2 linked regions of the Homo sapiens genome follow. The protein of the gene in region 1 purifies or fractionates together with the protein of each later gene. This does not show direct contact. Each region holds a gene or a part of one and is shown on either strand. Other genes may lie near its edges.

Region 1 (15,935 bases):
ACTGAATCCAAACATTTGGATAATGACATGGTGCCTCCTCAGCAGTGACTGTGTCTTCTTGTTCATCATAATAATGTTATTGATTAGCGGTACTGAACATGTAGGTATGCGTAGTAGTGAGATGCCGAGGTTAAGAGCTCAGCTCCAGGAATTGCATGGTTCTAGGTTATAATTCTTGCTCTGTCACTGTATTAGTCAGGGTTCTCCAGAGAAGGAGAACCTGTGTGTGTGTGTGTGTGTGTGTGTTGAAAGAAAGAGATGTGTTTTAACGAATTGGTTCACACAGTTGTTGGAGTGGCAAGTCCAAATTTTGAAAGGCAGGCAGGCTGGAGAGCCGGGGAAGTTGATGTTGCAGCTCAAGTCCAAAGGCAGCCTGGAGGCAGAATTTCCTGTTCCACAGTGGGGCCACGGTAGGCACTCAGTCTTTTTTCTTAAGGCCTTCAGTTGTTGGATGAGGGCCACTCACATTATGGAGGGTAATCTGCTTTACTCAAAGTCTTCTGATTTAAATGTTAATTGCATCTAAAAAATATCTTCTTAGTGGCCGGGCACAGTGGCTCATGCCTGTAATCCCAGCACTTTGGGAGGCCAAGGTGGGTGGATCACCTGAGGTCAGGAATTCAAGACCAGCCCAGCCAACATGGTGAAACCCCATCTCTACTAAAAATACCAAAAAAAACTAGCTGGGCGCCTGTAATCCCAGCTACTCGGGGGGCTGAGGCAGGAGAATCGCTTGAACCCGGGAGGCAGAAGTTGCAGTGAGCTGAGATCGCGCCATTGCACTCCAGCCTGGGGAACAAAAGCGAGACTTCATCTCAAAAAAAAAAAAAAAAAAAAAAAAAAAAAAAAAAAACACCTTCTTAGCACATTGTTTGGTCAAACAACTGGGCACCGTGGCCTAATCAAGTTGATATGTAAGACCAACATAGCCGCTGCCAGCAAGTTACTAACACTTCTGAGCCTTGGAGCCTCGGCTTCCTTGCCTGTAAAGTGGGGGTAAGAAGACCATCTTGAAAGGTTGTTTTGAGGTTTTACGTGAGATGAAATGGGTGTCCAATGGAGTGCCTTTAGCAGGACACCTGCTTACCCCCACCTCTACCCAGGACATCATGATGCGGGGGAAGTGGTGGAACCTTCAGAACCCAGCCCCTAGTATGAGAAGAATTCTGCCATCACCTTTCTTTCAGCAGAGAGGGAAGCAGTCCCCTTCCGTGACAGTCACATGCGTGAGTGATGGCTCCTTCCAATATCCTGCACTTCTTACTGCCCCTTACCTGGCGTTGCTCCACTCTGTCTCATGTTCTAGTTTTCTTATCTCTTTCTCTTTTTTTTTCTATTTTATTTTTTTCCTGTAGGCACAAGTGAGTTACAGTAGGTTAAGTTACACCTTACCTTTCCTTGTTTTTCTTGTTTATTTATTTGTTTATTTATTTTTTTGAGACAAGGTCTTGTTCTGTCACCACAGGCTGGAGTACAGTGGTGCAATCACAGCTCACTGCAACCTGGACCTCCCAGGCTCAAGTCATCTTCCCACATTCAGGCAATCCTCCCACCTCAGCCTCCCAAGTATCTGGGACTACAGGCATGTGCCACCACACCCAGCTAGTTTTTAAAATTTTTTATAGAGATAGAGACAGGGTCTCACTATGTTGCCCAGGCTGGTCTCAAACTCCTGGGCTCAAGTGATCCTCCCGCCTCAGCCTCCCAAAGTGTTGGGATCACAGGTGTGAGCCACTGCACCTGGCCTTTTGTTTTTTTTAAGTAGAGACAGTCTTGCTTTATCACCCAGGCTGGTATACGATGGCACAATCACAGCTCTCCTAGGCTCAAGGATTTTCCTGCCTCAGCCTCCTCAGTAGCTGGCACTATAGGCAGGTGCCACGACACCCAACTATTTTTTTTTTTTTACTTTTTATAGAGACAGGGTCTCACTATGTTGCTCCTGGCCTCAGGTAATCCTCCTGCCTTGGCCTCCCAAAGTACTGCGATTACTGGCGTGAGCCACCACACTCAGCCGAGTGCAATGGCGCGATCTCAGCTCACTGCAGCCTCCGCCCCCCTGCCCCCGGGTTCAAGTGATTCTCCTTCCTTAGCCTCCCGAGTAGCTGGGACTACAGGCATGTGCCACCACGCCCAGCTAATTTTTGTATTTTTAGTAGAGATGGGGTTTCACCATGTTGGCCAGGATGGTTTCAATCTCTTGACCTCGTGATCCGCCCGCGTCGGCCTCCCAAAGTGCTGGGATTACAGGCGTGAGCCACCACACCCAGCCCTGCTGTTACCTCTTTCTTACCTCAGCTATTTGAGGATAGAGTCTAGGTCCTGTCCTGCATATAGAAGGTGCTTATCATGTGTCTTTTGAGTGAACACAGAGGGTGACATTGTCACGTGCAGTGCCAACAGAAACCAAATGACTAGACACCTGCTGACCTTCCATGGCCACAGGGAGGATGAGAAAGGCACCTCCAGGAGGTGTGAATAATCTGAGGGTATTGGCCACTGTGGACAAGACTCGGTGGTGGAAGTGAGCTCAGAGATCCAAAGGGAACGTGAGTAGAGACATGCAGAGTCTCGCAGAGGAAGCAGACGTGCAGGCCACAAAGACAAAATTACAAGAAATGCCCCAACACGAGCATATGCTCACGGACTGCACAGATTCAAGGAGGAAGTGCCAGAAACCCTGCCTGCCCCAGCATCTGCACAGGCATCCACAAAGGGTTTCTGTCATGTTATCTCTTTTTCTTCCAACATCCGGTGCTGTGAGTTTTATTGTCCCTGTTATAAATGCCTCCAGGAGTGGCAGGTCCTGCCCAGCCCCATCAGCCAGTTGGTGCTGCAGTCAGGACACCCAGGCAGCCTGAGGACTGCCAGATGTGCAGAGAGCTATCGCGTGCCTGCTGCGTGCCCAGCACCTCACACAGCTCTCAGTGTCTGACCACGCTGGTGCCCTGGTGGACAAAGTTCCTGCCCTTGTGGCCCTTTTGTCTAGTGGGTGGCTTCCAACAATGAACACACACAGGATATGTCAGGCGGTGACAAAGGCTACTGAGAAGACCAAAGCGGCTTCACCCTCCCAGAGCACAGCTTTTCCCTCCCAGGCCCGAGAGATGTAGGGAGCCCACTGTCCCAGTCTGGGTCAAGAGGAACAGTTACAACACCTTGGAATGACTGAAGTTGGGAGCTAAGGTGCCAGGACAAGACAGGCCATTTTAGGAACCAGAGACTTGTGTTACCCCTAAACCTCACCAGCCAGGAGGGGAGCAGCCCACTGGGTCCTCTCTGCCACAGTTGGGTGCTTCTTGTGCTCCCCCTCCTGTGGTCAGGATAGGGGAAGCAGGCTTTCCTGCTGCCACTCCTAGGACCCAAGGGGAAGCTGGGGGAGTGGGGAGACCATGTGGGAAGGATGGAGTGCACTTTGATTGGTAGCAGGTGGATAGGTACTCCCATGGTGGGGAAATCAAAGTTGCTTGGCCTGTGTAGTAGACAGGTATTACCACAGGCCTGGAAAACATTAGCCTGGGTTTATCTCTGTGGCTTCGGTCCCCCAACATCCCCTTCTACTCAAAATGGCTGATTCTCTGGTTTGGAGGTTTGGCACCTGCTTTTGGGGAGGTTGCTCAGTCATTAGAGAAGAGTGCAGAGGTTGGACGGTCATCATGGCAGAGGTAGGACAGCTGGTATGTGGGGCCATGAAACCAGCTTTGGGCTAGGAGTCAGGAAGCTGAGACTCAGTTCAGGTCCCCTTTCCAAGATGAAGAGATCATTTCCGAGTGTCCAAAGGGCACTGGGAAGAGAATCCTAGCAGTTCTTATGAAATCATCTGACAGCAGATATATCCTGAAGTCATAGCCTTAGCAAACTGCCTTTCTCGCCAACACACTCAACACCCCGTGGTTCAAACATCTATACGTCTGATAGAAAAACTTGGAGAAATTCAGTGTGTTGCTTAATCAATATGACTGATACCTAAGCTGTTCTACTCAAGAAGTTTTCATGGGAATGAACTTGAGCTTCTTGAAGAGATTGTTTACAGCATCCCTGGAGTCTATGCAAGAATAGAACTTCCTGTGGGGGATGGTGGGGAGGCTAGCTCTGCAGAGGTCTACAGTCCTGCAGTTTCTGCAAAACACGTTGCACACATCTCCATATGGGCCACACGGTGGCAACCTCTGAACCAGGAGAGCTGCTTCCTAAGGGCTAAGACCCTCTGTCTGCTTTCTCTCTCTTGCTTTCCTCCCAAAACACAGCCATCCTCCTCCCCACTGCTACCCCATGGTGAGTTCAGCCCAGGAAGCCTCTGACCCAGCCCTGATGGTAATAGCTGCTGTGTACTGGACATCTTCTGTATGTTAGGCTCTGGGAGAAATGCTGTGGAGACTTTTTGCCCATCCTCCCAGAGAAGCTGTCAGTACCCCCTGTTCTAGGTGAAGAAACTGGTCCTCAGAAAGGTTGACTCCCTGAGGCCACACAGCTGTTAAGTGGCTGAGGCGAGGGCTGTGGGGCTGTTCCCACGCCCTGGCTTCCAGGCCTGGCAGCATGTGGAGCTGCCCCTCCATCGTGTGTCCGCAGACCTCTCCCGGAGCTCCTCGCCACCCTCACTGCTGGACCAACTGCAGATGGGCTGTGACGGGGCCTCATGCGGCAGCCTCAACATGGAGTGCCGGGTGTGCGGGGACAAGGCATCGGGCTTCCACTACGGTGTTCATGCATGTGAGGGGTGCAAGGTACGGACTGGGGGGAGCGGTGGCTGGCCACTGAGGCTGTGGTCACATGGTGAATTGACCCTCCACAAAGCTTTCCTTGCCTTGGGGTGGGGCCCTGACTGTACCTATTGCAGAATTCCTGCCCAGGAGGCAGCCAGGCCCTTGTGCTCCAGACCTCAGCTCTGGGCACTGCAGGAGAAGAGGGGGTTCCCTTGTCAAGCCTACCCTGCTGGGCACCTGTGTTGACCCAGCTCTGTGGGTGATTGTGTCCCCCTGGGGACCAGGCAGCTAGGGCAGAATGAGGGTCTTGGGCTGAGCCATCGTCTTACCTGAGGTCTGGGTTTCTTGTTTCTCAAGGCTCAAAGCGGGCTCTGAGAAAAAAGGACAGACATTTGTTTTTCCAGTGATATTTGTGGGTCCTTCCTAACTTCACACCCATCAAAATCTCACAGATTATTTTATTGAATCACCACCTCACAAATACACAGAACCAGATACATTTATGAAGAAATCAAGTTAGCCGTGAGACAATCTTATGTTACCAAACTAACAAAGAAGCTTTTTTTTTTTTTTTTTTTTTTTTTGAGATGGAATCTCGATCTGTCGCCCAGGCTGGAGTGCAGTGGCGTGATCTCAGTTAACTGCAACCTCCACCTCCCGGGTTCAGGAGATTCTCCTGCCTGAGCCTCCAGAGTAGCTGGGATTACAGGTACATGCCACCATGCCTGGCTAATTTTTGTATTTTTAGTAGAGATGGGGTTTCACCACATTGGCCAGGCTGGTCTCGAACTCCTGACCTCAGGTGATCCACCTGCCTTGGCCTCCCAAAGTGCTAGGATTACAGGTGTGAACCACTGTGCCTGACCCAATTTTTGTAGTTTTAATAGGGACGGGGTTTCACCATGTTGGCTAGGCTGGTCTTGAACTCCTGACCTCAGGTGATCCACCCACCTCGGCCTCCCAAAGTGCTGGGATTACAGGCGTGAGCCACTGTGTCCAGCCCCAACAAAGAAGCTTTAGGACTTCTTTAGACATTTAAAATAGTTGTGTTTTTTTTTTGTTTTGTTTTGTTTTATTTTGTTTTGTTTTGTTTTGAGATGGAGTTTCACTCTTGTTGTCCAGGCTGGAGTGTAATGGCGCGATCTTGGCTGACTGCAACCTCCACCTCCCGGGTTCAAGCGATTCCCCTGCCTCAGCCTCCTGAGTAGCTGGGATTACAGGGGTGTGCCACTACACCCAGCTAATTTTTCTGTATTTTTAGTAGAGACGGGGTTTCACCATGTTGGCCAGGCTGGTCTCAAACTCCTGACCTCAGGTGATCCGCCCACCTCGGCCTCTCAAAGTGCTGGGATTACAGGCGTGAGCCACTGTGCCTGAACTAAAATAGTTTTAATTAAAGTTTTAGAATTACTTTCCTTCTCCATCTCCCCTCCAAAAAAATTTCTTCTCGTTACTTCCAAATGTCAGGAGTGTTTACACCTTATACATAATCGGGCCCTTTGGCACAGCCTCCCTCCCACCTCCTGGTGGCCTTTCCTCACCTGTTCTTGGTGCTTCAGGGCTTCTTCCGTCGTACGATCCGCATGAAGCTGGAGTACGAGAAGTGTGAGCGCAGCTGCAAGATTCAGAAGAAGAACCGCAACAAGTGCCAGTACTGCCGCTTCCAGAAGTGCCTGGCACTGGGCATGTCACACAACGGTGAGAGCTGACCAGGGCAACTCACGGGCTGCTGGCTCCACACAGCCTGAAACCAAGGTCCAGGGAGCCCTTGGGGCAGCCTAGAGGGGGCACCTGTAGAGCAGTGCCTGGCGCACAGTAAGCACCATGGCTGTTGGCTGTTGGCTTTGCTGATCTGGACCTTGGATCTTAGAGCCTAAGACCTGCCACTTCCTCAGACTGCCAGCATCTACCATGGGTCCCAGGCGTGGGGTAGTGTTTACCTCCCTATACCTGAGGTTTACGCATTCTGGCCCAGAAGGGAACTGATAATTGATACCAGCTTGAACAATTTGGGGAACACCAGTCCCAGAAACTCAAGCCTGTCTCAGATGACCTGACACAGCATGAAAGCTACTGCCAAGGCCAGGTGGCCCTTCTTGGTTATAGAAGGCAGGCAGTAACCAGTAAGTAACCACATTTGTCAACTGCCAGGAGCCAGGCAGAAGTTTCTTGGAGGTCACCCACTCCCAGGAGACAGAGCCTTCTCTGCCCTGTGCTCCAGGCCTCCTGCAGAGCCTTGTCTTCGGACCCCAGGGTAGGATATTGCAAAGCCCACCTGTCCCCTCAGTACCTCTCTGAGTAAGACCCCTAGAGGACAGGGGAGAGCCTCTTGTGATCTCTACAGGCAGGTTAGCTGCTTGGCCAGCTTTTACCCAGGGATGCCCTAACTGCCTTGCATCTTAGAGGGTAGCAGTACCTGAGCCCTCCATTTGCGGCTCTCCTGGGTAATGGGGTCTGGCAGGTCTGGGTTTGACTCCTTTCTTAGGAAATCTCGGAACTGACTGAATCCCTCTCCTTACGCTAACTCCAGGAGAAGTCGAATTCGTATCCTACTCAATTACTAATGACAACAATTTTTGAGTGCTTACTATGTGAGGATTCTTATTTAATTGATCTAATAACTCAGTAAGTTTTAAAAAGTATTAGCCTCATTTTTCTGATTAAAAAAGAAAAGTGGCCAGGTGCAGTGGCTCACACCTGTAATCCCATCACTTTGGGAGGCCAAGGTAGGAGGATTGCTTGAGTCCAGGAGTTTAAGACCAGCCTGAGCAACATAGTGAGACCTCATCTCTACAAAAAAAAAAAAAAAAAAAAAAAAAATTTAGCCAGGCTTGGTGGCGTGCACCTGTAGTCCCAGCTACTCAGAAGGCTGAGGCGGGAGGATCACTTTAGCCCAGGAGGTCAAGGCTGCAGTGAGCCATGATTGTGCCACTGTACTCCAGCCTGGATGAGAGTGAGACCCTGTCTCAAAACAAAAAAAGAAAAAGGCTGGGCATGGTGGCACATGCCTATAATCCTAGCACTTTGGGAGGCCAAGGCGAGTGGATCACCTGAGGTCAGCAGTTCAAGACCAGCCTGGCCAAGATGGTGAAACTCTGTCTCTACTAAAAAAAAAATACAAAAATTAGCCAGGCATGGTGGTGGGCGCCTATAATCCCAGCTACTCGGGAGGCTGAGACAGAGAATTGCTTGAACCCGGGAGGCAGAGGTTGCAGTGAGCCGAGATCGTGCCACTGCACTCCAGCCTGGGAGACAGAGCGAGACTCTGTCTCAAAAAAAAAAAAAGAAAAGAAAAAGAAAAGTGAAGGAGTCTGCCCCAAGTCACAAAGCTAGTAAACTGCTGAGCTGGAACTCAAGCCCAGGCCTTTGTCACCAAAGTCTGTCTTACCCCAGCTAGCGTAGCTCAGTCACTCAGTAAGTTAGAGTCCTTGTGTGCTGGGCACTGTGAACAAAACAGACAAAATCACTGCTCTTGCAAAGATACACCAAAAAAAAAAAAAAATCACATCTTGTGGAGCTTGCGATCTGGAGGGGCCACCCCATCATTCCTACCTTGCTGACTCTAGAGCTTCTGGGGGCCTTAGGCTCCAAAAGGATTTGGCCCATGCACCTGTAAAGGGATGGGGATGTCAGAGGTGCTGGGGCCTGCCTGGGCTCCTTGCTGACTGCCCCCTTCCCTGTGCAGCTATCCGTTTTGGTCGGATGCCGGAGGCTGAGAAGAGGAAGCTGGTGGCAGGGCTGACTGCAAACGAGGGGAGCCAGTACAACCCACAGGTGGCCGACCTGAAGGCCTTCTCCAAGCACATCTACAATGCCTACCTGAAAAACTTCAACATGACCAAAAAGAAGGCCCGCAGCATCCTCACCGGCAAAGCCAGCCACACGGCGGTGAGTGTTGCTGCTGCTTGGCCTGGCAGCATCCTGGGCTCTGGGTCCCACTGCCGCCTGCCTGACTCCGGGAGAGCCAGGCCTTCTCCCTCCCTCAACTTCATGGTGCAGGCAAGGGACATGGGGAGCACAGGGTGGGGGTCTCCCGAGGCCTGATCTCTAACGGGGCCTGGTTTTCAGCCCTTTGTGATCCACGACATCGAGACATTGTGGCAGGCAGAGAAGGGGCTGGTGTGGAAGCAGTTGGTGAATGGCCTGCCTCCCTACAAGGAGATCAGCGTGCACGTCTTCTACCGCTGCCAGTGCACCACAGTGGAGACCGTGCGGGAGCTCACTGAGTTCGCCAAGAGCATCCCCAGCTTCAGCAGCCTCTTCCTCAACGACCAGGTTACCCTTCTCAAGTATGGCGTGCACGAGGCCATCTTCGCCATGCTGGCCTCTATCGTCAACAAGGACGGGCTGCTGGTAGCCAACGGCAGTGGCTTTGTCACCCGTGAGTTCCTGCGCAGCCTCCGCAAACCCTTCAGTGATATCATTGAGCCTAAGTTTGAATTTGCTGTCAAGTTCAACGCCCTGGAACTTGATGACAGTGACCTGGCCCTATTCATTGCGGCCATCATTCTGTGTGGAGGTGAGTGAGAGTGGGGCAGGTGGGCTGGCCTGGCACACCCAGTCGTCCTGGGGGTTGGCCCTCACTGCAGGGCACTGTGCCTGAGCTCTGACAGTGTGGGGAAGTGTCCCTGTGATCTTGGCAGTGGAACATGCAAGGCACTGACTGAGCATGCAGGATCAGCTCCATCTCATTATGTACGTAGATAGAGGTGGAGACAGGAAAAAGACTAAGCCAGACGTGGTGGCTCACACCTGTAATCCCAGCACTTTGGCAGGCCGAGGCGGGTGGATCACTTGAGGTCAGGAGTTCGAAACCAGCCTGGCCAACATGGTGAAACCCCGTCTCTACTAAAAATACAAAAAATTAGCCAGATGTGGTGGCACGCGCCTGTAATCCCAGCTACTTGGGAGGCTGAGCCAGGAGAATCGCTTGAACCCGAGAGGTGGAGGTTGCAGTGAGCCAAAATCCCACCACTGCACTCCAGCCTGGGTGACAGAGTGAGACCCTGTCTCAAAAAAAAGGAAAAGGACTAACAGGCAGTATGCTGTCATGTTAATGTGGGGTGGAAAAATTGTCTGCATTTTTTCTGCATTTTTAAAATTCCAACACAATAAATACAATAATAACTATGCTAACTAACAGTGGTCTAGAGCTTACTTCATGCCAGGCACTGTTCTTTTCATCGATGATGACTCACTTGATCCTCACAACAACCCTGTGCAGGAAGAATGTTTTGTGTCTCCATTTTACACATCAGAGAGGCTGAATGACCTGCCTATAGCCTCACAGGCAGACACAGGATTTGAATTAAGCATTGAGTCTCTTAACCACAATACTACGTTGCCTAATCGGGGGGGAGGTGGGGACAAATTGGCAAAAAACAAAAGAAGTGGATTAAGACCAGGGGTAGGGAGATTAGAACACCCAGTGGAGCATTGCTGATGGGACAGGGCTTGGTCTGTCACGGCCAAGGAGGCCTGCCGTCCCCTGGGCCAAGTCACCTCTTGGGGTGGAAGTAGGGGAGCTCCACTGCCTTTCTGAGCTCCCTGGCGTGCCCTGTGTCCCCACAGACCGGCCAGGCCTCATGAACGTTCCACGGGTGGAGGCTATCCAGGACACCATCCTGCGTGCCCTCGAATTCCACCTGCAGGCCAACCACCCTGATGCCCAGTACCTCTTCCCCAAGCTGCTGCAGAAGATGGCTGACCTGCGGCAACTGGTCACCGAGCACGCCCAGATGATGCAGCGGATCAAGAAGACCGAAACCGAGACCTCGCTGCACCCTCTGCTCCAGGAGATCTACAAGGACATGTACTAACGGCGGCACCCAGGCCTCCCTGCAGACTCCAATGGGGCCAGCACTGGAGGGGCCCACCCACATGACTTTTCCATTGACCAGCCCTTGAGCACCCGGCCTGGAGCAGCAGAGTCCCACGATCGCCCTCAGACACATGACACCCACGGCCTCTGGCTCCCTGTGCCCTCTCTCCCGCTTCCTCCAGCCAGCTCTCTTCCTGTCTTTGTTGTCTCCCTCTTTCTCAGTTCCTCTTTCTTTTCTAATTCCTGTTGCTCTGTTTCTTCCTTTCTGTAGGTTTCTCTCTTCCCTTCTCCCTTGCCCTCCCTTTCTCTCTCCACCCCCCACGTCTGTCCTCCTTTCTTATTCTGTGAGATGTTTTGTATTATTTCACCAGCAGCATAGAACAGGACCTCTGCTTTTGCACACCTTTTCCCCAGGAGCAGAAGAGAGTGGGGCCTGCCCTCTGCCCCATCATTGCACCTGCAGGCTTAGGTCCTCACTTCTGTCTCCTGTCTTCAGAGCAAAAGACTTGAGCCATCCAAAGAAACACTAAGCTCTCTGGGCCTGGGTTCCAGGGAAGGCTAAGCATGGCCTGGACTGACTGCAGCCCCCTATAGTCATGGGGTCCCTGCTGCAAAGGACAGTGGGCAGGAGGCCCCAGGCTGAGAGCCAGATGCCTCCCCAAGACTGTCATTGCCCCTCCGATGCTGAGGCCACCCACTGACCCAACTGATCCTGCTCCAGCAGCACACCTCAGCCCCACTGACACCCAGTGTCCTTCCATCTTCACACTGGTTTGCCAGGCCAATGTTGCTGATGGCCCCCTGCACTGGCCGCTGGACGGCACTCTCCCAGCTTGGAAGTAGGCAGGGTTCCCTCCAGGTGGGCCCCCACCTCACTGAAGAGGAGCAAGTCTCAAGAGAAGGAGGGGGGATTGGTGGTTGGAGGAAGCAGCACACCCAATTCTGCCCCTAGGACTCGGGGTCTGAGTCCTGGGGTCAGGCCAGGGAGAGCTCGGGGCAGGCCTTCCGCCAGCACTCCCACTGCCCCCCTGCCCAGTAGCAGCCGCCCACATTGTGTCAGCATCCAGGGCCAGGGCCTGGCCTCACATCCCCCTGCTCCTTTCTCTAGCTGGCTCCACGGGAGTTCAGGCCCCACTCCCCCTGAAGCTGCCCCTCCAGCACACACACATAAGCACTGAAATCACTTTACCTGCAGGCTCCATGCACCTCCCTTCCCTCCCTGAGGCAGGTGAGAACCCAGAGAGAGGGGCCTGCAGGTGAGCAGGCAGGGCTGGGCCAGGTCTCCGGGGAGGCAGGGGTCCTGCAGGTCCTGGTGGGTCAGCCCAGCACCTGCTCCCAGTGGGAGCTTCCCGGGATAAACTGAGCCTGTTCATTCTGATGTCCATTTGTCCCAATAGCTCTACTGCCCTCCCCTTCCCCTTTACTCAGCCCAGCTGGCCACCTAGAAGTCTCCCTGCACAGCCTCTAGTGTCCGGGGACCTTGTGGGACCAGTCCCACACCGCTGGTCCCTGCCCTCCCCTGCTCCCAGGTTGAGGTGCGCTCACCTCAGAGCAGGGCCAAAGCACAGCTGGGCATGCCATGTCTGAGCGGCGCAGAGCCCTCCAGGCCTGCAGGGGCAAGGGGCTGGCTGGAGTCTCAGAGCACAGAGGTAGGAGAACTGGGGTTCAAGCCCAGGCTTCCTGGGTCCTGCCTGGTCCTCCCTCCCAAGGAGCCATTCTGTGTGTGACTCTGGGTGGAAGTGCCCAGCCCCTGCCCCTACGGGCGCTGCAGCCTCCCTTCCATGCCCCAGGATCACTCTCTGCTGGCAGGATTCTTCCCGCTCCCCACCTACCCAGCTGATGGGGGTTGGGGTGCTTCCTTTCAGGCCAAGGCTATGAAGGGACAGCTGCTGGGACCCACCTCCCCCTCCCCGGCCACATGCCGCGTCCCTGCCCCGACCCGGGTCTGGTGCTGAGGATACAGCTCTTCTCAGTGTCTGAACAATCTCCAAAATTGAAATGTATATTTTTGCTAGGAGCCCCAGCTTCCTGTGTTTTTAATATAAATAGTGTACACAGACTGACGAAACTTTAAATAAATGGGAATTAAATATTTAAGAGCTGACTGGAAGCTGACTCAGTTACTTGCATGTTTTTCCTGGGGCTTACAGGGCTCCACGCCTCCTCCACATCCAGTACTGGAGGGCAAAGGAGGCTTTGGGCTCCAAAACCCTCCCCTGCCTCCACCTCGCTTTGCTCACCGCTTGTCAGTCAGGTGGACGACTATGCCATTTCCGCCCTGCAGAGAGAATTTGGGGTGTGAGGGGACAAAGGACTTGTGGTGCCCTGGCCTCACCTGGTGGAGCACTTGGGGTCTGGGGAAGGGGAAGGCCCCTGGAGGAGGCGGATGCAGGACTCAATAGATCAAAGCCAGTTTTTCATCACCACAAGAGATCACGGCTTTCCTCTCCTTTGCTGCCACCCAGCTCTCTCCTGTCTTTCCTGAGTGCCATCTCCCCAGCGGTCCAGTCGAGCCCAGCCCCCGGCAGCCATGGGTTTGTTTGCAGTGTGAGGCCAGGTCAGGGTGTGTAACAGAGTATGTGTTTAGTCAGGAAAAAACTACAGCTAAATATTTCCAAATGGGGAATGTACTGCAGGGAGTTGTTACAAAAGTATTGGAAGTACTGAAAGATCAATAGGGGGAAATAGGAGTCATCCAGAGATGACTAACTGCAGGAAGCCATTCTCACCTCCAGGGCTGAATGGGAAAATGGTATTCAGGGCCCACCGTTGCTACAACACACACTGACACTGCGGCGACCCAGGAGCCTGAAGTCACCAGTTGATTTGACTGTAGAACCAGACTGCTGGTGCCTGAGTTCACGCAGATGGTACATATGGGGCCACCAGAGTGCCCGAGGCCACCACCACTGCTGCCCCTGGAACCTCACTGCTTGAGTGCTGTAGCCCCATAACTCATAGCCTGGTCTCAGCTGCTTCTGCCAGAAGTGCTGTCAGAGTTTGGGGTTGGGGAAGCAAAGGATTCTTCCTTCTGCCTATCTTCCAGTCTGTTGCTTTTACCTCCCATTGGGGGAAAAAAATGCATGGTAGTCTAGGAAATGGAGTTTGTAGACTTCCAGCCCTTGCAGCATAGAGGAGCATGTGGAAGGGTGGGAACTGAACCAAGCGTCTGCAGGCAAACAACTAGCACAGCGTACAGGCACCAGCCCCAGTGTGAGGGATCCCAGAGGCCCACAGCTAAGGGATGGTCACTACAGCACTTGCCTCCTTGTTTTCTTTCTTTGCTGGTCATCTTGGCAGAGCAATCTGAATTGTCAGGTCCCATATGGTTCATCTCAGTCCAGAGAGTGACAGCCCCAGGGGAACAGGAGGAAAAGAGGAGAAGGAAGAAAAAAAGGGGTGCTTGGAACCAGGGCATCTCTGAAATTGGTAGCCTTTTTTATAATGGAATCCTCTGGTTTACTTGGTGTTATAAGTAAAATGTTTATTCAGAAACAGAATGCTTGTTCCTTGGAACTATAAGGAAAAATTAGCATTTAGACAAAAAGTTTTCTCAGCAAGGCAATTTTACTTTCTGCAGGAAGGGTGTTCCTCACAGATGGAACAATGGCGAGAGCACACACGAACAAAGGAGGGAAGCAATTTTTATCCTTTATGCAGCTTGTCCCTGCTACTGTGTCCTGTCTCCATTGGCTGAAGCCAGACCACACAATCTAAGCTAAACCTGACTGGCTAATAACTTAAAACTTTCCTAAATAGGTGAAGGCAAGGGAGAACAAAGGAAAAGAGGAAGTTGCTTGCAAAAGGACTTAGAAAAGTAATAACCAAATATCTGGTTAAAGTACAAGGACATAGAATGTACTAATTCCCTTATATCTAACAGCTACACAGGATAGGGCTTAACAAAGAGTTATTAGCACAAAACAAGGTGGCTTGAAGGAAGTTAGTCTTTAAAAGAAACTATTATTTCTAACACTTATGATTTATTTTTTAACAAGAAGGGAAACTTTGAAGAGGAACCTTTTTTACTTTCTACACTTGGTTTATTTTACTCACCTCCCTATTCTTTCCCACACTATCAAATGGGGAAAAAATAGTCAAAGACTGTGTGTGTCTCAGTTGTTAAAGGCCAGTCCTCTTCCCAGCACTGAAGAACCCAGTATACTAAATAACCAGTTCTCACTCAGTTCAGAGAGTCGAAGCTGTCTCAACCACTTTGCCTGGCTTCTGGTGCTGCAAAGAGCATCATATGACTCTGGCCCCCGTTGTTACTACCCTAATTGCTATTCCTTATTAAGCAGCTATTCATGCATTATACATACATCACCTCTAATCTTATAAGGTAAACATTATCACCTGTCATTTTACAGAGGAGGAAGCGCAATGAGAGATTAAGGGGTGTGCCTGTGGTCACAGCTAGGAAGAGGCATGGCCGGTATTCCATCCGCAGCCTTAGGATCTCTGCTTTTCAGCCAGGATCAAAACTTTGGGGAAAACAGTTGGTCACCTGGTCTCTTTTTAATAATGCTCAGGACAAATGAATCAAGCATTTAAACTAAAAAAAGAAGAAAGCAAACTTAGGAGACTTAGAAGATTCTCTTGGCAATAATTCTATAAACCTAAAAGTATTCTGAAATTAGAAGTTTATTAGAGAGATAGCCGGGCACGGTGGCTCACGCCTGTAATCCCAGCACTTTGGGAGGCCAAGGCGGGTGGATCATGAGGTCAGGGGATCGAGACCATCCTGGCTAACACGGTGAAACCCCATCTCCACTAAAAATACAAAAAATTAGCCAGGCATGGTGGTGGGCGCCTGTAATCCCAGCTATTCGGGAGGCTGAGGCAGGAGAATAGAGTGAACCCAGGAGGCGGAGCTTGCAGTGAGCCGAGATCGCACCACCGCACTCCAGCCTGGGCGACAGAGCGAGACTCCGTCTCAAAAAATAAAAATAAAATAAAAAATACATTAAAAAAAAAAAAAGAAATCAAGGTTGGGCGTGGTGGCTCACACCTGTAATCCCAGCACTTTGGGAGGGTGAGGCGGGTGGATCACCTGAGATCAGAAGTTTGAGGCCAGCCTGGCGAAACCCTGTCTCTACTAAAAACACAAAAAATTAGCCAGACGCAGTGGCACATGCCTGTGGTCCCAGCTGCTCCAGAGGCTGACACAGGAGAATCTCTTGAACCTGGGAGATGGAGGTTGCGGTAAGCTGAGATCGAGCCACTGCACTCCAGCGTGGGCGACAGAGCAAGACTTCGACTCAAAAAAAAAATCAAAACATAAGAAAGGAATAATTTGCTTTGTTTGTTTTTTTGTTTTGAGATGTAGTCTCGCTCTGTAGCCCAGGCTGGAGTGCAATGGCATGATCTCGGCTCACTACAAACTCTGCCTCCCAGGTTCAAGCAATTCT
Region 2 (16,432 bases), on another chromosome or scaffold:
CGCGGTGGCGGGCGCCTGTAGTCCCAGCTACTCGGGAGGCTGAGGCAGGAGAATGGCGTGAACCCGGGAAGCGGAGCTTGCAGTGAGCCGAGATTGCGCCACTGCAGTCCGCAGTCCGGCCTGGGCGACAGAGCGAGACTCCGTCTCAAAAAAAAAAAAAAAAAAAAAAAAAAAAAAAAAGAAATGAAGGCTAATTCCTTCTCCTGGAATTTGAGAAGGCCTGGGACTCACTTTGTTACCAACAGAATGTGACACAGTGATGTTGCACGACTTCTGAGACTAGCTCACAAAAGGCAAGGCCATTTCTGCCTACCAACTGCACTTCTTGACCTGAACCTGTCAGCAGCCATATAAGCAGACTGAGTGCCTGAGCTGCTATACTGTGTGCAAGAAGCCCAAACTAGCCCACACAGCCACATGGAGAAGAAGATGCCTGGCCAGCCCCCAGCCACCTTGCTGTACTCCAGCCACCATCTGACTACAACTCCATGAGAGGCCTGGAGCCAGAACTAGCCAGTTGAGTAGTTCTTCCAAACTCCTGATCCACAGATATCATGAGAACTAATAAAATGATTGGCTTTATTTTCGGCCACTGAGTTTTGGAGTGATGTGTTACGCAACAATAGTGGCGGGAATAGAGATCAACTGAAACAGCCATCTTTCTGTCACTTCAAAGCCCCACAGTTCAGACAAATGGAGGACCTCTTCACGACATCACACATGAGTCAATGCTACTACCTAATTTATTAGGGGGCATGAAAATACCCTGAACAAATACTGTCTAGAAAATATCTGATTTAAGGAGGTCAAGGCTGCAGTGAGCTGTATTCATGCCCCTGCACTCCAGCCTGGGTGACAGAGTGAGACCCCGTCTTCAAAATAAAAGGAAGAAAATATCTGGTTTAAATCAGGATTTAAATTCTGGCCTCTAAGCTAAAGGTTATACCTTGAACCTTAAGCCAAGACAAACACCAGATGAAACCCATCTATCAACACCACTGATTATTCAGAACCAATAGCTGAATCTCACATACCCTCTTCTTCCAGTCAGAGAAAGAAGCCTTAGGAATTTCAAACATAAACATCTTATGTTTCCCTTTTTAATTCTTCAAGGGACTATTTACCTCACTAAGGATTCAACCCTTCACATGAGCAAAAATTTAGCAAATGTTAAATTTAGTAAAGCCCAATGGTGATAACGATGACTCTGGGTACCACCGAGGAAACATTATACATCCATGGTAACAAGGGCTTAATTAATAAATGGTGTCAGGATAAATAGCTTTTCACCTAAAAATTAGATCACTAGTTTGTTTTTTTAAGAGATGGGGGTCTCACTATGCTGCCCAGGCTAGTCTCAAACTCCAGGGCTCAAGCGATCCTCCTGCCTCAGACTACTGAGTAGTTGGGACTACAGGCATATGCCACCATGCCCAGCTTAAATCCCTAGTTTTATGCCCTTCACCAATGGCTTAAATTCCAGATGGACAAAAGATCTAAAGATAAAAAACAAAACTTAGGATTCTTAGAAGCAATGTAGGAAATATGTTTATAATGCTTGAGTGAAAAGGGCTTCTTATTTATTTATGTATTTTTTGAGGCGGAGTTTCGCTCTTACTGCCCAAGCTGGAGTGCAATGGCGTGATCTCGGCTCACTGCAACCTCTGCCTCTTGGGTTCAAGCGATTCTCCGGCCTCAGCCTCCCGAGTAGCTTGGATTACAGGCATGTGCCACCACGTCTGGCTAATTTAGAATTTTTAGTAGAGATGGGGTCTCTCCCTGTTGGTCAGGCTGGTCTTCAACTCCTGACCTCAGGTGATCTGCCCGCCTCGGCCTCCCAAAGTGCTGAGATTACAGGCATGAGCCACCAAGCCCAGCCGAAGAACGGCTTCTTAAGCAGGGCATAAAATATACAAATTAGGGAGGAAAAGACAACAATTTGATCATGTCAAAATGTAAAACTGTACAACAAAAAAACCCACAAAGTTAAAAGACAAACCAAAGACTGGGAGAAAATATCTAATGTATATAATCAACAATAATTAGTATCTAGAATGTATAAAGAACTCCTATCAATAAACTAATAGAACCAGGCACAGTGGCTGGCACCTGTAGTCCCAACTACGTGGGAAGCTGAGATGGGAAGATCACCTGAGCCCAGGAGTTCAAGGTTGTAATGAGCTATGATCATGTCACTACACTCCAGCCTGGGCAACAGAATGAGACCCCATCTCTAAAAAACAAAATTAAAGAATAAACCAATAAACAGGAAAATGAACATTAGATATAAATAGAAAATTCGATAAAGAAACTGAATGGCCAGTAAAGATATGAAAAGATGCTCAACCACAACAGAAATCAGAAAAATTCACATTATAAATGCAGTATTATTTATACCTAACAAACTGTCAAAAATGTACAAGTCTAACAATACCAAGTGTTAATGAAAAGACAGAGAAATGGTAACTACTTAACACTACCAGCAAAGATTTAAGTTGGGAACAATACTCTGGAAAGTAATTTGGTAACATCTAATACAGTTAAAAATAAGTACAGCCGGCCAATCCCAGCACTCTGGGAGGCTGAGGCAGGCGGATCACCAGGTCAGGAGTTTGAGAACAGCCTGGCCAACATAGTGAAACCTTGTCTCTACCAAAAATACAAAAATTAGCCAGGCATGGTGGCGCGTGCCTGTAGTCCCAGCTACTCGAGAGGCTGAGGCAGGAGAACTGCTTGAACCCAGGAGGCGGAGGTTGCGGTGAGCCAAGATCGCGCCACTGCACTCCAGCCCGGGCAACAGAGCGAGACTCCGTCTCAAAAAAAAAAAAAAAAAAAAAAAAAAGTACAGCCTACAACTTAGTATTCCTCTGCTAAGGAGACATGTACAAGAATGTTCTCTGCAGTATCATTTGTTCTTATAAAAAACTGGAAAGAGCACAATTGTCTACCTCCAGGAAAATGGATAAATTGTGGCTATTTATTTAAAGCAACACTCCACAATAGTAAAAATGAAAGAATTTGATATGTATTAAAATAGGTAGAACTACAAAATAACCAAATAAAAAAACAGCTGCGTGTTACATTCAGGATACCATTTACGTAAACACAATACAAAAAACTAACTCTACACATGTAGTCAAGAATAAAAATGTAAACTTGAAGAATACATGCCAATTTCAGCATAGTGGTTGCATCTAGGGAGCAAATAAAGGGAATAAAACTGAGAACAGAAAGACTTCAACTTTATATAACCATATTTTTGTTACAAATTAAGCTAAAATAATATTAATATTTGCCAAATCATAGAGTAGATAAATGTTAATTACATTATTCTCTGCACTTTTCTATAGTTTTAAAATCCAGTTTAATAAAGGCTAATAAAGATTTAAAAAACCCATCACTTCTAAATAGTAGAAGAAATAAAGGGGAAAAAAAACTTGGTGTGTATACCTAGAAGTCAACAGAAATATGAATGGAAGGGATGCATATTATAATAACTTCAGGATAATGATCATCCCTGGGAATGGTATAGGTAAAAAACAGACACTAATTGTGCCAGTAATGCTTTATATCATTAAAAAATGTGTCCGGAGCTGAAAAATGTAAATTCGGGGTGATGAGTAGTGGAATGTTTTATTTATTTCTGTATTTTTCTTACCCTGAAGTATTTCATAATATAAAAGCAGAAAATTGAAAATAAAAAATAAAAATAAGCTCTGTGTTCAGAAACACTGGGAAATGTTTTCTGTATTCTGATTTGCCTTCTTTACCAAGATAAATAAAGAAGCAGTTAAAGAACGTATTACCTTTGTGGGAAGACTGTATTTTCCATCTGGAAGAGGAAAGCTCTGAATTTCTCCACATGCAGCACAAAGAAAAGCCATCTTGGTGCAAAGAGGCTTTATATTACTGACACGAACCACTGTCCCTCTTAGAGCAATGTATTTTCCATAGTAATTTGCTCTGACATTCTTGAGCTGTGTCAAAGGCTCATAGTTGTACACCCTAAAGACAAAACAGGAAGTAATGAACAGAAAATTGATGTTTTTTATATTTTCACAAGTTCCTTTTAGGAGCAACTATGGAATTCTCAAATCAAATCATCCCTTCGATATATCAGAAATATCACAAGAATTAAACCATTCTTGTTGTGTTTTGTTTTCTTGAGATGGAGTCTCGCTCTGTTGCCAGGCTGGAGTGCAGGGGTGCCATCTTGGCTCACTGCAACCACTGCCTCCCGGGTTCAAGTGATTCTCCTGCCTCAGTCTCCCGAGTAGCTGGGACTACAGGTGTGTGCCACCACACCCAGCTAATTTTTGTATTTTTAGTAGAGACAGGGTTTCACCATGTTGGCCAGGATGGTCTCGATCGCTTGACCTCGTGATCCGCCTGCCTCGGACTCCCAGTGCTGGGATTACAGGCATGAGCCACCGTGCCCAGCCAAACCATTCTTAACAAGAAACAACACTAAATCTTCCTTTTTCTTCTTGTCTCACAGGCTGTTCTCAAGGAAAAAAGAAAAAAGAAATTTAAGGAAAAAAATAATGCCAAAAGGAAAATCTACAGATTCAAAAACCTTTGGGTTTCTAAGTTCTTTTTAAAGAACTGCTAGGAAATTTTCTTCTATAAATTCTGGAAAAGAAAAACAAAATGCTGATGATTACCTTATAATGAATTCTTCTAATGAATTTAAAATCTTAAAGATGAATTCAAGAAAAACAAAATAATTTCATTATTCCCTTGTATCTAACAAAAACCTAATAATTTAACAAAGAACACTTAGTGTATTACAGACTGAGTATATCCCTTATCCAAAATGCCTGGGACCAGAAGTATTTTGGAATTTTTGGACTTCCAAATATTTGCAATATTACTAGTTGAGTATCTCTAATTCAAAAATCTGAAGTGCTCCAATGAACATTTCCTTTCAGTGTCGTGTCAGGGCTCAAAGTTTTGAATTTTGGAGCATTTCAGATTTCAGATTTTCAGATTAGGGATACTCAACCCATACATGGATTATTAAACTTACACAGCAGGGTCTTGATAAGTTCACATCCAAAACCAATGTTTACAAAAATCTGCAGGTTAGGAAATCAACATTTTCTTCCTTATTTAGGAAGTATCTGTCATGATGTCTTTGAATAATTTTCAATGAGTTTATTTCAGTGTGATGATCAATGAGATGGCAAGGAACTCATGTCCTTTTTACTGATTTCCTCATTTTTATAAAATGAGCGTTTTCATTCTTAAATGGCCTTCAATGTCCCATTCTAAGTAATACTTTAATACATCAAATTCCTCACCTTGCATGAATATGTGGCACATTTACCATTGTTTCTCCATCATTAGACAATCCTTCCTGGGCTTGTAACTCAGCTGCATGCCTTTCAAGGTCCTTAGTTAACACCTAAACAGGACAGACATTTACTCTGAAGTTGGAAAACAAAACATCCTCTTTATACAGAACTCTATTTTTATAGAGAATATAAAGTTTATGGACAGAAACAGAATAAAAACAGAAAACTTTAACAGCCCTTTAAATATCTAATATTTAATTATGACTACTTACTTTATAGTGGATGTTTTACATTGGATTTTGCTGTCCCTGTGCTGAAAAACTCCAGCATCCCAGTCTGCTACTTTCTGTCCCAACTAAACCTAACATTAAAAGCCCTTACATTAGTCCCCAAAACCATCACCTCTTGATACTAATTAAAAAAAAAAAAATGCATTCCTATTTCTCTATATTCACTGACCAATCAAGACACAGAAAATAAAAATGACCTTTAAAATACCTAATACTCACTCCCTTGGCATTTAACATTAAATAATATAAACACGCTGGGCGCAGTGGCTCACACCTGTTATCCCAGCACTTTGGGAGGCCAAAGTGGGTGGATCCCCTGAGGTCAGGAGTTTGAGACCAGCCCGACCAACATGGTGAAACCCCATCTCTACTAAAAATACAAAAATTAGCCAAGTGTGGCAGTGCATGCCTATAATCCCAGCTACTTGGGAGGCTGAGGCTGCAATGAGGCAAGATCACACCATTGCACTCCAGCCTGGGCAACAAGAGCAAAACTCCATTTCAAAATAAATAAATAAATAAACAACAAACAAACATTTAATACCACTTGTACACAGCAGTTTGCTGGCAACCTAAGAGGCAAAATAAGATGCATATATACAGCTGTAATTGTCATAAGGACCATAAAGATGTACAGACAAAATACCATGCAAGTTTCGAAAAGTGGTCATGAGAAAGGTTTTACAGACAGACAACTGAGCTAGGCCCAAATAATCTGTCCATGTGAAGGGAAGGGGATTCTATGTTGAATGGACAGCACAGGCAAGAGGTAGAAGAATGCCCCTCTGAATGCCCCAGCACTTTGTGTATGCCTGTCCTGAGATTTGCTATTCATTACCTTGAAGCATGTATCTGTTTGCTAGCCTAAAAAATGTTTTTGGCCGGGCAAGGTGGCTCATGCCTGTAATCCTAGCACTTTAGGAAGCCAAGGCAGGCGGATCACAAGATCAAGAGATCAAGACCATCCTGGCCAACATCGTGAAACCCCGTCTCTACTAAAACTCCAAAACTTAGCTGGGCATGGTGGTGCACCCAGCCACTCGGGAGGCTGAGGCAAGAGAATCACTTGAACCCGGGAGGCAGAGGTTGCAGTGAGCGGAGATCATGACACTGCACTCCAGCCTGGCAACAAAGTGAAACTCCATCTCAAAAAAATAAATAAAAAATAAATTTAAAAAATTTAAAAAGTTAAAAATGTTTTCATATATGTTGTATTACCTGACCCTGAAAAAAAACTCAGGCAAGCACAGTACAAACTGTTATTTACATTTGATATACAGGGACACTCAGTGGTTTGCTTCATGCCACAGAACCTAAATCTAAGGTTGCTCTTTTTTGCTCTAAGTTCATAACCGATAACACCATGATTCCTTGTTTTATCTTCCCTATGAGATTGTATAACTTCTTGAAAGCAAAGTTTAATTTCTGCACAATCTTTAGCAAGATTAAGCAAATCCAAATAAGTTGGAGGTAAATATTTCATTTAGATAAGCTGTTGTATATAGAATGAATGGTATCTTTCAGAACGGAACTGCAACCTCTCAGTTCTAGCCAACATCTTTTCGTAAAAGCTAAGTATCTCTTATAGAAAGTACAGTCACTGTAAAATCTTCCTTTAAACTTAGACAAGGTGTGCATGTGTGTGCAAACATTAAAAAAGTTTAGACAAAAGTATGCATAAGACAAATAGTTACCTGATGTATTGCCAAACCCATGCAAGCCAAGGTTTTCTCAGGTGCATCTCTTAGTTCAGTTGCTATATCTGGTATCAAGTTAGTTACTTCACCACCTTCTGTCAGTTCTTTAAAATCTACCAAAATACTTCCCTTTCTTTCTATTTCATCCTATAAAATATAAAAGTATGAAAACAATAATTGCTTTTCTGTAGTCAATTACCATTAACTGAGCATTCTATTATAGACTTTGAGAAAGCATACAATGTTTATATGTGATAATGGTAAGTATGACATAAGTATAAGCTTTGTGCCAAGCATGGTTCTGATATTTTAAATATATTAATGTATTACTGCCTCTTAACAATCCTTTGAGGTAGGTATTTATACCTCTATCTCCAAATGAAAGAAAACTGAGGCACAGAGAAGTAATTAATCAAAGTCCATACTGCAGGTAAGTGGCAGAACTGAGGTCTGAACCAAGGAAGTCTGACTCCAGTGCCTACGATCATAATCACAAGTACCTCGAATACATTGGTAAGATGGCACATGACTGGTAGCTTTGCTGTAGAGGAATCTTACCTTGTCATACAAATCAATATGCCTTGTGAAAAATTTTTCAAATGCTTGAATCTTCTCAATCAAAGGAGAGCTATCGCTGTAAACTAATCCAACAAATATGGCATTAGCACAAATAATCACACAGGTACATGCACATTTTTCATGAGACAAAAGCAGCACTATATACATGGTAGATGATTTTTTTCTAATTGCTTTGTATTTTGATTACATTCATATAAGAACTAGTATAGAATGTAAACTTAAGATTCTAAAACAAATTTAGGTTTGCATAATGTGAAATGCAGACAGAAACTCTCTCTCTCTAAAAGCCCCACTATCTGGGAAACTTTGTTTTGCATCTTTGACACCTAATAGGACATGTTAGTTCAGATAATTTAGACAATAAGCTTAAACTAAAAATTATAATAAAGCCAAAGCCAGACACATAAACTAAGCTCTTACTCTGACAGAGCTGAAGACAATCACAATCACAGTCTTTCCTGAGATCAGGAGACAGACCAACACTTGACCCTGGTGGCAAAACTGAAAAGCCTTTTTTTTTTTAACACTCTAAAGTTCTACATTTTCAAATATGTCTCTCACAGAAGAACAGTACAATAAAGTAGTTTGGAAGCACAGATGGTGAAGGCTAAGGCACCTCTTGAACTCCATCTTTAGGACTGTCCAAAGATCACTTATAGTGTTCTGAGCTATCTGCTAGGGGAGCAATGGGAGTGCTGGTGGCTAATACATCCTAAAGGAACAAAAGATCATTCATGAAACAGATTCTATTGATGGAAAAAAACGAACAGATTTCCAATAAAGAAAACATTTGTAAAGTACTCTATTCATTCACAAAATGACTACTGCATGCCTGGTATGGGGCAGGGAGGGTCCTGGACCTCAAACGTCTAGTTTTCCTAAAAAAAAAAAGTATGCGGCTGGGTGCGGTGGCTCACGTCTGGAATCCTAGCACTTTGGGAGGCCGAGGCGGGCGGATAACGAGGTCAGGAGATCAAGACCATCCTAGCTAACACGGTGAAACCCCGTCTCTACTAAAAACAGAAAAAATTAGCCGGGCGTGGTGGCGGGTGCCTGTAGTCCCAGCTACTCGGGAGGCTGAGGCAGGAGAATGGCGTGAACCTGGGAGGCAGAGCTTGCAGTGAGCCAAGATCGCGCCACTGCACTTCAGCCTGGGCAACAGAGCAAGACTCCATCTCAAAAAAAAATAAAAAGTATGCACACACACACACACACACACACACACACACACCCCTCATGAGACATAAGAAACAAATGGGTATTTTAACAGCACAAAAAAGACAGTTCCCTGCACCTATACAGACTGATGTAGGTTAATTGGTATTCCTAATTATCAAAGGGAGATTCCTTACCTGTGTTTCTACACAAAGCTGTATTTGTTATTGTCCCTTGATTTCAGGCCCACTGTTCTACTTCCTGCTCTGCGATGCTATAATTCAGATCTGTACCCTACATGTCTCAGATTCTCTTTAAATTCTGCCAATTGAAGGCACTTTAGAGACGGGAAGGTGGCAGGAAGAGAAAGGAATTTATTCTTGTTTCCAACTCTTTTCAGCATCTCTGCAGCTGCAGAAGATAACGATAGTGCTAGCCTCCAGTTCCAAGCACCACTGAGTCATGCCCCCTCAGTTACCAGTGGCAACCAGCTTCATTTGCCTTAGTGGTCTAAGCACAGCTCTGTAAGGTAGCCTTCAGAAGTCCAAGCATAGCTTTGTAGGGTGCCCCTCAAAAGTCAAAATAACAGCTATGCTGTGACCTCTCCAACCTTTGAATTCCCACATTCTGGTAACCTCAGAACTTCTTTTAGTCTCTTAGCCATAAGGATGGTTGCTGCTTCCTGAATTACTACTTTCTGGGGAGTTACCTCAATATTTCCTTTCTGCTCTTTCAGTCTTCCATTTTTGTATCCAATTTCTTGTATTAAGTCCCCTTTTTGAAATACCTAGTATGGTTTCTGCTTTCCTGACTGATATAAAGTCTAAAATGCTTTTGAAACATAAACATCATTTAATTGTTTGGGTGAACTAAGATTAAAGCAGGTATATGTTAGTAAATGAATTACAGTAATACAAGATGTAGCATCCAAAGACAAGTTAAGAAAATATGATTTATGGTGCTTTTTTGTACTTTTTAAACCCTACCTTCAGAGAAATAAAGCTTCCAGCCTTTATATGGTATGAATCGATCCAATGTTGACTGCATTGACTGTGGGGTCTTTGTTGAAAGCAAAAACTGTGGGGTTTGTTCTGAAAAAAATAAAATACTAGGTTAGTAGAAACAGAGTGAACATTTTTCCAATATGCTTCTCTTTCCAAATGAGACTCTCATTAATAGAGTATCCAAATTAGGGGTTTTAGTAAAAATCTGGGACATCAATGTTCAAATACTTACTAAGGAGTAGCATGAAATAAAAGACAAACTGAAGTATGAGATAAACCGCCTTGTATGATAGACGTGAATTGCTTCCTTAAGTGAAAAAAATTGAACAATCATTGACCTCACCTACCAGAAGTACGTTTTCCTGTGGTTTTACTCAGATCAGGTCTGTGTTCTCTTTCTCTCCATTTTCCTGAGAAGTTCCCACCACCTCTTCCCCTTTTCCAGCTTTGAAATCTTCCTCGTCCAAATCCTCTGCCTCTATACTCTCCATTCATCTCTCCTAAAAGATAGATATTAAAAAGGTCTTCACCAAAACTGTAAGGAAAATAGTGCTCTTAAAAATGTATTAATAAAAAGGGAAAAATTAATGTATTCTAGGTTCAAGAGTAGCAAACAGGCTTGCAAAGTTGTACAGCTATGATACAAGACCCAAATATTCTGCAGTTAAGTTTCTAATCTCTATCGCTTTTTAAGGTATACCATAATAGTTTAATAACTATTAAATATGGTTTACGTATACTAGACGCTCACAGGTTAAAAATAAGGACAGGTACTGTACCTGTTTACAAGTCCCCATTACAGAAATGAAAATAGGACAGGTAATTAACTCTATGAAAACTTATTTGCAGTATTTGAGACTTCTTATTATAGGGCAGGACAGGATGAACATAATTCTGGCCTGTGAGACACTAGGGATACATCATCATAGCTTCTTACATACAGTCAATCCTGCAGTGTCACATCCATTTTTTGTGCAGTTTTTCTGTAAATCCAAAACTGTTCTTATAAAATACACGTCTACTTAAAAATGATTCATATCCTAAGTATACAAGTAAATAAAGATATACCTGTACGCTGCAGTGCAATTCATTATCAAATACTCTACCCAAATCCTTACTTAAAAGGGGTTTAGTTAATAAAACAAGATAGTAACTAGAAAGTTCACGATTTAACGGCATGACAGGGCTCCAATAATTAGGCATTACACATTATGAAACTGATGCTCAAAGAAATTAAGCAAACCGATCAAGATCAAAGTTGTTTGTCGACAGTACAGAGATAAAACTTTCAGCCTCCCAAGCTGAGGCGCTCCTTCAACAACGCTGCGTGCCATACCCTTCTCAAACGAGACAATATGCTGAGAACAGTAACAAATTCAAAAAAACGTTAAGAAGTAGGACTGGAGAAAGAGTAAAAAGAAACAGTTGGGTACCTGTGCTTCTTCAAATACTACTTTATTTACATCTCCTAAGGCTAAAGTTCTTACTTGCTTGGGACAGAGGTCCCAAAGCTCTCCTAGTTCACAACTGGGCCGGCTCCAGGATACGCGCAGATCTGTCCGGCCGGATTCTCCCTCCCTCCCTCCCGTAGAGAAGCACCACGGGGCTAAGAGTCTCCGGGATCTTAGCTCCTCAGGCGACTCCTGCCAAGTCCGCAGTTCTCTTCAGCCGCAGCTTTCCTGTCGTCCCCGCGCGGTGCTGAACCCCATCTGTCTCAACGGCTCGGGAAACTCAGTTTCCCCACCGCAGCTTCCAGAAGGTGTCTGTAGCGCACAGCGCCGCAAAAATGCCTCAAGCGAAAATCAGGTCTTCCCCTAAATTCTTTTTTGGCGCTTCAGTGATCCAACTTCCGCTCAAAGAAGCGGCAAGACGAGAGGGGCGGGGCGGAGTGCAGCCAATCAAGGAGTTTGGCCAGACGGAAGCCGAGAGGCTTCCGGAAGCGGTCTTGAGGTCTGGGCCGGAAAGCGGAAGCGGCGTGCAACACGTGGGGGCGGTGCCGGTCGGAGGGCTCCTAGTGCGCCAGGTTGTGGGAAGTGAGGCTGGCGGTGGCGACAACCGAGGAGGAGGGGCGGGACGCCGTGGAGCACGGCGACCGGCTGAGCGTCATGGAGGGCTCAGGGGAGCAGCCGGGCCCACAACCACAGCATCCCGGAGACCACCGCATCCGCGACGGCGACTTCGTGGTGCTGAAACGTGAAGATGTGTTTAAAGCAGTACAAGTCCAGCGGAGAAAGTAAGTCAGATCGCTGATTTTAGGGGTCTCCCGCCCCCACCTTGTAGATACCCCCTCCCTCCAGGTTTCTCCACAGAATTCTTCCGCCAGGGTGCCATTCTTGGCTCTCTCGGTCCCCATTCCCCGCCCTCGTTGTCTCCTCGGGTCTTTCTGTCACAGAAGGCTTTTCCACCAGGATCCCGTCTTCGAACCTCATAATCTCCCTTAACCCTCCTGTTTTTCCCGGAGCCCCCTCCATGATTTCATATCTGGCCGTCCACCTTCAGCATCCTTTTCAGTCTTTCCACAGAGTTCCTTCCCCAGAATTCCATTCTTGGCCCTAGGGTGCCAATGCCTCCCTCTCCACACCCTAATCACCTGTCCTGAAGTTCTTTCCCTAGGACCTTGGGATCTTCACTGTCTTTCCAGAGACACCCCCTCCTTTCTTCACTTTAGGATCTCATCCTTGTCTCCAGAGTCTCCTTCAGGTTCCCCCTTTTTTTCCACCATAGATCCTCCTTCTTCCCTAATCCCCCAGTCAGGATCTATCCCACAAAAAATGAAACGTCTCCTACCTAGTCTGGCTTTCTATCCTCTTCTCTACCCAAGCAGGATACACAGAATAGATGAAGGAGACAATTCACCACAGAGTGTGGAATCACTTTGAGTTTCCCTCGTTTTACTCACCAAAGGATTCAACGCTGGGAAAATTGCTAAAAAGCAATTTGCTCAAGGCCTCAGAACTCCAAATTAGGTTTGGTTTGTGCACCTGCTGGCTAGTATCGCTCTGTTTTATAGAAGTAAAGAAGTGGGATTTTGATAACTTTCTGGAAGGGCTGGTGAGGTTGTTAAGTCCTAAGAGCTTATTAATGGTGAAAATTTATTGGGATATTTGGATTAATTTATCTGAGAAATACAACCACAGTGTTTTTGTTTTTGAGACGGAGTCTTGCTTTGTCACCCAGGCTTTAGGGCAGTAGTGCAATCTCGGCTCATTGCAGCCTCTGCCTCCGAGGTTCAAGCGATTCTCCTGCCTCAGCCTCCCTAGTGGCTGGGACTCTGGCACCATCACACTCGGCTAATCTTTTTTTTTTTTTTTTGTATTTTTAGTAGAGACGGGGTTTCACCATGTTGGCCAGGCTGATCTCGAACTCCTGACCTCAGGTGATCCACCCGCCTCGGCCTCCCAAAGTGCTGGGATTACAGGTGTGAGCCACCGCACCTGGCCACAGTTTCTTTTGAGCTAGGTTATTGTATTACTTTTGACAGAGATAAGTTGAATGCAATGTCAGGAGAACAGCTTTCTGCAGACTGGGAAGTATGAGATTTGGAATTTCTGATAAGTACTTACTTCAGATGAATTCTTTTACTCCTGGTTTAAGCAAACTGTTGACTGGTATTTAAGGTGAAGCAAGCATCATAAAATAGTCAAGAAACAAGTCTCCAGAGCACTAAGCTGGTGATAACCAAGCTTTTTGCACAAGCACTAATTTAGTAAAGATAAAAAGTTTCTTTTATGAGGGGTATGTTTCTTTTAGTCCGGAAATGTAATACCTGCACCAACCTTTAACCATTTTTAAATTCTTCTTTTTTTTCTTTTTTAAACTAATTAATTTTTTTTGCAGAGACAGAGTTTCACTATGTTGTCTAGGCTAGTCTCCAATTCCTGGGCTCAAGTAATTCCGGCCACCTCAGCCTCCCAAAGTGCTGGGATTACAGGCATGAACAGTAGTTGACCTTCCCCTTTTGTGGTGCCAAAAGGGTTGGAGACCACTGCCCTAAACATTTATTTGGAAATACTTTTCAACAGGCCCTCTTCTTCGCAGAAGTCATAGTGGCAGTTTCCATTTTATTTAGGAAATGACTCTCTCAGCTCAGCTGCATCCCAGGTCAGACTCCCTCATCACCCTTGGGGCTACACTCATCTGATTGGGCAAAAAACAGTCCAGGCTCTCTGAGAAGTAGACTCTGCAAATCCTACTCCTTCCCAGTAAAGATGTGGCCTCCTTATCCCTCTAACGGGGCCCCACATTCCCGACTGGGGCAGTGACCTGTCAAACCAGCCAGTTTTAAGTGACACGCATCATCCCCTCTGCATATCACATAGGCTCTCAGAGAGGTAAACCCACCCATCTCAGATCCAGTGTTTTTGTTTGGTTTGTCTGTTTGTTTGTTTTGTGAGACGGGATCTCACTCGGTCCCCCAGGCTAGAGTGTAGTGGCGTGAACTTGGCTCACTGCAACCACTGCCTCTTGGGCTCAAGCAATCTTCCACCTCAGCCTCCTCAGTAACTAATTTGTGTACTTTTTGTAGAGAAACTCCTGAATTCAAGTGACCCTCCTGCTTCAGCCTCCCAAGTAGCTGGGACTACAGGTGTGTGCCACTACACCTGGCTAATTTTTTTATTTTTTGTAGAGACGGAGTTTTTCCCCGTCAGCCAGGCTGGTCTCAAACTCCTGGACTCAAGTGACCCACCTGGCCTCCCACAGTTCTGGGATTACAAGTGTGACCCACCACACCTGGCCAGATCCAGTGTTTCAAAGCACCTAGGTGATTAAAGGATGAGGATAGGGGGTGCACATCTGGGCTGAGCTGAATTGCAACATCTGAGGAGGTTTACATTAGCAAATATTTTGAGTGTCTGTTACATTCTGTTGTATGTAAGTATCTAGGGACCCAGCAAATAACAAGAATTGGCCATATCTGAATCACTTACGATCATACAGGATTTCCCTCAGATGGTTTGAGTAAGCTTTAATGAAGATGTGACTCAAAAGTGTGGCCGATTTAGGGAACCAATAAAGGTGACACACCCAGAGACCAGCAATGGTGGTAAGCCTCTGACACGGGAGCGTGGGTGATGTGGCAGTATATTCTGTCGTAATCAGCTTCCTGGTGGCACAGAGAAAGGAAGAGAAGGAGTGGGATGGGGCACAATCAGAATTAACCACCACATGATTCCCAGAATTCAGTGTTCTGTGCACATGGGCCATGTCCTGAAGCTAGGTGGGCTTTCTACCGTCCTTAGGTCTTTGCTGGAGTAGACCGTGTGGTATAGTGGAAAGAATGAGGCTTGGGGTCAGACACAGATTTGAATTTGAATCCCAGCTCCAACAACACCTTGCAACTGTGAATCTTGGACAAGATACTTCTCCCTGGGCCTCGGATTGCTCTTCTGGAAAGAGCTATGTCCCAGGATTACCGTGAGAATTAAATCAAAAAGTGTGAATCACACCTCGCACACACTGCCTAGCCCCTGGTTGGCACTCAGCAGATGTTAGTTTTCTTTTGAGAAGAAAGCATTGTGTTCCTGTGGGATTTCTCTTTTAAATTGCAATAAGATAAAAAATCTATGTCATAGGAAACCTCAAGTTGCCTGGTCCTCAGTAGAGCATTGTCAGTGTTAGGCTCCATTTCCAAGTGTGTAGATTGTCAGTGTTTATTTGCAAGTATAATTTGCTTTTATTAGATAATTTTCAAATAAAATGGCCGATCAGACCAAGCCCAAGAAATTTGTTAAATCCTTGTTACTTCGATGAGTCTTTGCTTCCCCTTTCCAAAATTCAGTGTTCTTGTGGCTTATTCATTAATTTTACGTCTCTATCCCAACCAGGTTCTCTCTAGTTCCTTTGTTGCTTTATGTTCAGAGATAATGCTGCTGATCATCCATTGTGGAGACCACTTTTGAAATAAACTGTAGTGAACATGTCTTTTCTGTACTGGATAGAAAAGATATTCAGTTAATTGATTACTTTTTTTCCCTAGAAAAGTAACTTTCGAAAAACAGTGGTTCTACCTGGATAACGTCATTGGCCATAGTTATGGAACTGCATTTGAAGTGACCAGTGGAGGAAGTCTACAGCCCAAGAAGAAGAGGGAAGAGCCTACTGCAGGTGCACATTTTGGATGCGTGAAATAGATGCTCTCCAACTGACTAGTCAGAAACATCTCAGCCTCCACCTAATTCCCAAGTGCTAGGCCATGCTATCCCAAAAGAAATCTTAACTCATAATCTAAGAACTGCAGCTCAGTGGAGTGAAGCAAGTACTGCCTTTGGCCATGAGATAACCTGGATTCTGGCTCCAGCCCACCATTAAATGGTTCTCTGTTCTTGGGCCAGGCATTTAATCCTATGAGTCGTTGCTGCGTCATTGCAAGAACATAATGTAAAGTTCTTTCAGTGCCCAGAAGTTATGTA

Evidence for each region.
Region 2: the proteins of PPARD (region 1) and TRMT6 purify together in Homo sapiens (affinity purification with mass spectrometry; 3 studies listed by BioGRID and IntAct, with this or other methods). This does not show direct contact.

The regions. Positions count from the first base shown.
Region 1 is NC_000006.12:35,415,558-35,431,492, forward strand, and holds the end of PPARD (peroxisome proliferator-activated receptor delta), read left to right. Parts: intron 1-4,569; coding exon 4,570-4,724; intron 4,725-6,262; coding exon 6,263-6,401; intron 6,402-8,388; coding exon 8,389-8,591; intron 8,592-8,771; coding exon 8,772-9,222; coding exon of another isoform or gene 9,223-9,230; exon of another isoform or gene 9,231-9,843; intron 9,844-10,274; coding exon 10,275-10,522; 3' UTR 10,523-12,621; downstream 12,622-15,935. UniProt on the Homo sapiens protein: Ligand-activated transcription factor key mediator of energy metabolism in adipose tissues. Receptor that binds peroxisome proliferators such as hypolipidemic drugs and fatty acids.
Region 2 is NC_000020.11:5,946,101-5,962,532, reverse strand, and holds the start of TRMT6 (tRNA (adenine(58)-N(1))-methyltransferase non-catalytic subunit TRM6), read left to right. Parts: upstream 1-11,999; 5' UTR 12,000-12,127; coding exon 12,128-12,255; intron 12,256-15,999; coding exon 16,000-16,127; intron 16,128-16,432. Other genes in the region: DNA helicase MCM8, read right to left, coding at 3,807-4,005, 5,304-5,407, 7,282-7,431, 7,843-7,925, 10,005-10,109, 10,370-10,517. UniProt on the Homo sapiens protein: Substrate-binding subunit of tRNA (adenine-N(1)-)-methyltransferase, which catalyzes the formation of N(1)-methyladenine at position 58 (m1A58) in initiator methionyl-tRNA.